Linked DNA regions of Homo sapiens. The protein of the gene in region 1 interacts with the protein of each later gene in a pairwise test. Each region holds a gene or a part of one and is shown on either strand. Other genes may lie near its edges. The genes, in order: CD302 and CD53.

What was found.
Region 2: the proteins of CD302 (region 1) and CD53 interact in binary tests that used the Homo sapiens proteins (3 or more experiments, as listed by UniProt).

Annotation. Positions count from the first base shown.
Region 1 is NC_000002.12:159,791,407-159,795,444, forward strand, and holds part of CD302 (CD302 antigen isoform 1 precursor), read right to left. Parts: exon of another isoform or gene 3,784-4,038; intron 1-3,783.
Region 2 is NC_000001.11:110,876,148-110,879,647, forward strand, and holds part of CD53 (leukocyte surface antigen CD53), read left to right. Parts: exon of another isoform or gene 1-1,487; coding exon of another isoform or gene 1,488-1,538; intron 1,539-3,500. UniProt on the Homo sapiens protein: Structural component of specialized membrane microdomains known as tetraspanin-enriched microdomains (TERMs), which act as platforms for receptor clustering and signaling.

The DNA.
Region 1 (4,038 bases):
TATGGCACAAATCATAAGAACTATGGGTAGTCATTCTTCTTTGGAAAAGGAAATGTGTTACCCTCTGATGGCCTATACATGTTTACATAGCACTCATTAGATCCTTCTTTATATAGCGGCTATCTGATATGCATCCTGTTTTCCCAAATGATTGTTAACGCCACGACAGCAGAGACCATGTCTGAGATCTAACTACTCTCAATAATAACTATCCTTCTGTCTTGAACATAACACTGGAAGGGATGCATAGAAGTGGGTCAATACAGGACTCTGGTTAAGCCCATTAGACTGTGGAGAAAAGTCTGGCTCTGACTACACAATCGTGGACATGTTATTTAACCTTACTGTGTCCCAGTTTCCTCATCTGTATAATGGGAATAACAGTACCTATCTGAGGGGGTGCTGTTAAAAAATTGTGCAAGGTGCTTGAGATTCCACAGTGAACAAAAAGGAAAAGAAATTCCTGCCCTCCTGGAAATTTATGTTCTAGTTGACGCAGTTATGCAAAAGGAAGACAAATACATAAAATAATATGTTAGATGGTGTATTGTGGTCTATTGCTATGTAAAAAATTAGCAGCTTAAAACAAGAAACACTTATTATATACAGTTTCTCTGGGTCAGGAATTCTGAAGCAGTTGCTTGTCTGGGTGATTCTGGCTTGGGGTCTCCATGAAGTTACAGTGAAGATGCTGGCTAGGGCTGCAGCCATCTAAACACTGAACTGGAGCTGAAAGGTCAGCTTCAAGAAGCCTCACTCATATGGGTGGTGAGCTGGTGCTGGCTGTGGGCAGGACACCACAGTTCCTCACCACGTGGACTTCTACACAGGGGTGCTTGAGGGTCCTTATGACATGGCAGGTAGCTTCCCCCAGAGTGAGTGATTCAAAGGAGGGCAAAGGTGGATATGCAATGCTTCATACAATCCAGCCTTGATTGTCACACTGTCTTATTTCCATACTATCTTATTGGTTATTGTATTAGTCAGGGTTCTCCAGAGAAACAGAGAACCAACTCTGTGTGTGTGTGTGTGTGTGTGTGTGTGTGTGTGTGTGTGTGTGTCTGAAAAGATAGGGAAAGAAGTCACATGGATATTTCAGGCAAACAGAGGGAGGAGCAAACACAATGCTACTGTGTTGCACAGTATGGGAATGACTATGATGATGATAATGATAACCAGCTACTCAAAGACCATTGCTGAATAACTAAGTTAGCAATACAGAAATGGTCCCGAACTTAATAATGGACAACTTACGATTTTTTGACTTCACAAGTTTATTGGGATATAGCCCCATTCTAAGTCGAGGAGCATCTGCATGTGACAAGACCAAAAAAAAATTTTTTTTTAACAGGGTATGTATAGAAAAATAGAAAACAGACTGTTGACTCACTTCCCCAAAACTTTCAACTGCCTTCTCCTTAGGCTCATTTCAGCATTAGCAGTAACTCCAGTTAATTCAACATGGAACCCCTTTTCTCATGCTATAGATCCCCGATCAGAGTGTGTGCCCCAGAAACAAGTTTTAAGCACTACTCAAAAGATATATTTTTACTTTGAGAAGAACAGTGCTCAAATAGAGGCTGGATAACTCCTGTGAGGAGATTGTTGACGTTCATGCACCTCATGAACAAAAGACTAAACTAAGTCGTCTTCAACGCTAAGTATCTTTGCCATAATCCTAATATAATTAAAAACCTGCCCACTAAGCTCTCTGCAAAGGGCCTATTACTCTTATTTCTTCACAGCAGTCCTGAATGATAGGTTGTTATTAATAATGCACTTAAATGACTCTTAGGGATTTTATAATTTTATAATTCTTTAATACGTACAGAAATTCAGGAGCCTCATGAATATTTTAAAAGCTGTACTTAGCATAACTCCAAAAGTTTCTATATAGATCCTCTGCCTAAAATTATCATGTGCTAAAAGAAGATAATGTCATATCCACAGGAATACTTTGCATTACCAGTCAAATCTAATAGAACTCTCTGTTCCTTTATAAGTTCTCTGTCTCTCTTTTTTTTAAAAAAAGAAAAAAAAAACAGGCACAGCATGAGGAAGTGATTCTTGGGACATACTTGTTCTAAATGTTAACAAAGGAAAAGGGAAAGACTTCTTTTTCATTTTCATTGTCAATAATAAGACCTTTGCTCCTCTCCCATTAAGATATGAGTTGTAGTCACATAACTTCCGCAAGGGCAACTGTGGCACAGACAGATGAAGAAGAGGGGCTATTTATTACATTTATAATGTATGGAGGAGGGAGTGGCTGTTCCAAGTCCCTGACTAATCCAGAGATTCTGTGGCTGTACTCTGAGCTTCAAGATCTCTCTGAATCCCAAATAAATTGAGGCACTCTGACACCTCATCCCCTCTCCATATCACTCTTCCCAATCTAGCTTTCAAGACATCCATCTCCATATTGTCCCATCACTTCCCTCTTCAGAAGGGCTGTTATAATGTATATTCATAGAAGGGGTGTGCCATTGTTAATCTGTACCTTTCTCTTTGGGCATCACTGGTCTATTTTTTAAAGATTTGGTCTCAAGATTTGCTCTCAAAATCTAAAATAGGCCAGGCGTGGCAGTTCACACCTGTAATCCCAGAGCTTTGGAAGGCTGAGGTAGGAGGATCACTTGAGCTCAGGAGTTTGGGACTAGCCTGGGCAACAAAGTGAGACCCCACCTCTACAAAAAAAAAAAAAAAAAATTAGCAGGGCATGGTGGCATGCACCTGTAGTCCCAGCTACTCAGGGGGCTGAGGTGGGAGGATCACTTGAGCCCAGCAGGTCAAGGCTGTAGTGAGCCATGATTGCACCACTGCACTCTAGCCTGGGTGACAGAGTGAGGCCCTGTCTCAAAACAATAAAATAAAATAAAATAAAATAAAATAAAATAATAAAAAAAAAAACACTAAATAACCCACAGAAGGAATGAAATACTTGATATGCACAATAAAAATTATGGAAAGTAACCTTGCTGCAAAACTAGTTTTCAACACATAAGCAAATTGTTAAAAGATTCTCAACAGTAAAAGAAGTCCTGAAATAATACCTAATTGAAATTTCACTTTTTCATTGGAAGAAAAATAAACATTAACATTTCAAAATTAATTAATTTATTTATTTATTTATTTATTTATTTATTCATTTATTTATTTTGAGACTGAGTCTCGCTCTGTCGCCCAGGCTGGAGTGCAGTGGCGCGATCTCAGCTCACTGCAAGCTCTGTCTCCTGGGTTCACGCCATTCTCCTGCCTCAGCCTCCTGAGTAGCTGGGACCACAGGTGCCTGCCACCACGCCCGGCTAATTTTTTGTATTTTTAGTAGAGACAGGGTTTCACCGTGTTAGCCAGGATGGTCTCGATCTCCTGACCTCGTGATCCACCCGCCTCGGCCTCCCAAAGTGCTGGGATTACAGGCGTGAGCCACCACGCCCAGCTCAAAATTTATTTTAAAATACTCTAATATTTAATCTGAGATAATTTCCCCTGAAACATAACTGTGCCATACACAAGAGTCAGAAAAGGTGGCATCAGGCCGGGCACGGTGGCTCACACCTGTAATCCCAGCACTTTGGGAGGCCGAGGTGGGCAGATCACGAGGCCAGGAGTTTGAGACCAGCCTGGCCAACATGGTGAAACCCCATCTCTACTAAAAATACAAAAGTTAGCCAGGCATGGTGGCGCATGCCTGTAATCCCAGCTACTCGGGAGGCTGAGGCAGGAGAATTGCTTGAACCCAGAAGGTAGAGGTTGCTGTGAGCCGAGATTGCGCCACCGCACTCCAGCCTGGGTGACAGAGTGAGACTCCATCTCGGAAAAAAAAAAAAAGAAAGAAAGAAAAGGTGGCAGCAATAGATTAAGATGATTTAAGGCTTTGAATTCATTATGAAATGAGTGCATAGCAGAGGTAATATAATTTGAAAAAAATTGCAATCCACTTATCCTACCTACTTTTTAAATAACTCACCTAAATTTTTTCATCCTTTTATTATAACTTAGAATAAAGTGCAGAGACACAAATCAAAACAAAACAAA
Region 2 (3,500 bases), on another chromosome or scaffold:
AATGAGAGCCAATAAATAGGAGCTGTCGCAACTGTCCAATCTGCTTACTTTTCAGGTAAAATGACTTGTCCAAAAATCATAAAATTACTTAATAGTTATTCAGAATGTCTTCTGATTCTCTATGGCATGCTCTTTCTTCTACATTATACTATAGTCCCTTTTCTAAGAGATTTTTTATTAAGTAAGCATCATTAGACTGTATTCTTCATTTACATAAATTCCTAGTGCATTTTAACATAAGCAAACATAAAAATACCACTTAATTGTAAATGTAATTGATCTTAAGCTACTATGCTAGCAAACTAAATACTTAACATATATTTTATTTTCCAAACCTTTTTGTTTGGCCTTTTCTATTTCAGGAGAACTAGATTGAGGAATAGGGGTAAGAAATGATTTTAATGCCTCATATCTTTTAAAACTTGTTAAAGTTTACTTGTTAAAGTAAATTTGAACTTATGGCTTACCTTATATCAGGAGCAAATAAAGGCATTCAAGAATTATTCCATAGTTTAGTCTTCTTAAAATAACTATTGTAGAATCTCAGTATTTATAACATAGAAGACAAATTGTAATGATTTTGAGATGAGAATCCCTTAGATCATTTATTTATTTCCCATCCCTTTAAAAAAATGACAAAATTCAGACTGATAAAAAGGTTGAAAAAATATTATGAAAAATTTCTAAATCCTTTTCACCCAGATTTCCAAAATATTAACATTTTACTTCATTTGTTTATTCTCTGGCTCTCTCATTTGACAGTAATTAGTAATTTGATTGATGCCCTTTCCCCTAAGAATGTTAGTGTATATTTCTACAAACAAATGCATTCTCTTATATAACTACTTTACAATGATCAAAACCAGGAAATTAACACTTATGCAATATAATTAACAATCTATGTACTTTATTCAGATTCCACCAATTACCTCTTTAATATTCTTTATAGCAAAAGGAAATTTCTAGTCACGCATTGCCTTCAACTGTCACTTTTGTCTCCTTTAGTCTGGAACACTTCCTGAATTTTTCTTGCCATTGATATTCTTGAAGAGTAAGGTCAGTTCTTTTTTAGAATGTTTCTCCATTTGGGTTTATCTGATGTTTCCTCATGATTAGATTCAGGTTATTTAAATTTTTGATAGGAATACCAACAAAGTGGCTTTTCTTATCCCACAAAGAGTCTTGCTTAATCTGAGCATAGCCAGCCTGCAGACACCATGGACAGGCCTCTAGCCGAGGGACCCCGTATGTAAAGTTCTGCATATTTCTACCTAGGAGGACGGAGAACCTCTGGTCTCTTGACTCTGTAACAGTGCTAACTGTTTTAGGTAACTGTTCCTGATTTACGAAGTAAGCTTATTAGAAGAGTCCCTGTCCCACCTCAGCTGTTATTAGTATCTTGCTAAGCTCCCACATGGGAGGAAGTGAGCTTCCAAGATCATCTGGATTTGTCTTTCTTCACTTTTTCTCTCCTCTTTTCTTCTTCCTTATTTCTCTCTTCTTCTATAAATCGCCAAATCCTCTCCCCTAACAGCGACCTAGAAGAAACAAAATTTTTATCAGATTACAATTTTAGGAAGGAATAAGATAACAGATATTCCTTGATTAGTTGATGGAGAGATGAATGGACACGAATACATGAGAGTTGATGCTTTGGCTTCGTTTTATTTTACCCCTACTTCTTCCTCTACAACTGCTTATTACTCTTCAAAAGGACGTACAGCGATAACTTTGATTGCACCTCAGCCACTGCTCACAGGAGTTCAAACGAGCTGATGAAAAATGGAAGGTCTTCTCCTGGATGCTCAACACATTGCACCAAATGAGTTGGGAAGTAATAGGCACAAAACCAGAGCCTGGGACGGTGGAAAGAGCATGGGCTTTGGAGGCTGAAAGAACTTGGCCTTCACCCTGCCTTTGATGATTCTTAGCTGGGTGACCTTGTGCCAGTCCTCGGCTTCTCTATTTGCAGAATGGGGCTAATGACACCTAAGTTGTCAGGCCGATTTGAGGATTATAAATAAGACATTTATGAGGAACTTAGTTATTTTGTGGGATTCAGTGAACTATCTATTATGTATCTCAGTTTGTTTGAGCAAGGCCTACATTTGGGAGCCCTCACTGGGGCAGATTTTCGCTCCTATTTAGAAAAACTTTTTCTTAATCACAGCCTCAATTGTCTTTGCTAAGGAACAAAGACTGCCACAGGCTCTGTGTAGGAAGGGATAGGGAGCCGTAATTACCTTGCGAATGCTCTTGTATGTAAATTGACAATCTGTATATAGAGAAATGTATATGGAGAAGTGTCTGGAAAGACGTTTGCCAAAATGCTAATGATGGTTATCTCTGGGAGGTGGGATTTCAGAAGATTTTATGCTTTCTTCTTTATACTTTTCTTTATTTTTTAAATGTAGAATTTTTTTTTAAAGAAAGCATGCTTACATTTGCTTTCTATTGCTGGATTTTTCAACTTTTTCTAATAGGTTTGAATGGAGTAAGAAATGTGTTCTAATAATATATATTCTCAATCTTAGCTTACAAAGGTGTTTCTCTACCAAACACTTCCATTCACTGAAAGAAAACAATTTATGCATCTTAAAGAAACTGTGCTTACATTTGCCTTTTATTGCTGGGATTTTCCAACATGTCTTAACAGAGTTCAGTGGAGAAAGAAATGTGTTCTAATAACGTATTCTCAATCTTAGCATACAAAGGTGTTTTTCTATTAAACGCTTTTCTTCACTGAAAGGAAGTCTTACAGAAACTGTACTTGCATTTATTTATTTATCTTTTATTACTGAAATTTAACATTTTCAATTTGTTCTAATAGGTACAAATGGAAAAAAAACATGTGCTTTTCTTTATTGTTTGATTTCTTTTTGTTTTTTTATTTTTTTTACAAATGGCACACGAAACCTCTTTTTAAAACGTATGAAACAAGCAAGGGATTATTCTTGCCCCGTGTATGTTTTATTCCTAAAAATCTGTTAGAAGCTAAGGGTTACCCTTAGGAATGGACTGGTAGGTAAGGTCTGAACTTGATCTTTCAGTGAGTTTTCACTGAATAAGGCAGATACACAGGGACTGAGCCATCCTGGAAATAGTATCTCATTTAGCCCTCAGAACAACCTCTGAGGTAAGTATTAATAACCCTATTTCAAAGATATAGTGAAAGACAGGTTAAGCAAGTTGCCCAAGGTCACACTTCTGATAAGTAGCACTAACAGAATTCAAAACTAGACCTGTCTGATTCCAAAGCTAGTGTTTATCAAACTGTGTTCCACAGAATACTATGTTATTTGACCTGTTAATAAGTGATCTGCAACATAAAACTAGGTTTGTAGTTATATAAACATATTTTTGTCTTAGAGACTCACAGTGCACATTAGCATATAACAGGTTTTTCTCTTACACTGTTTTTTTTTCTTTATCTTGGCTTTTGTTTGAGGAGCACTTACTAATATCTCATAAGCGTAATGGTCTATGTAGCACCAAAGCTG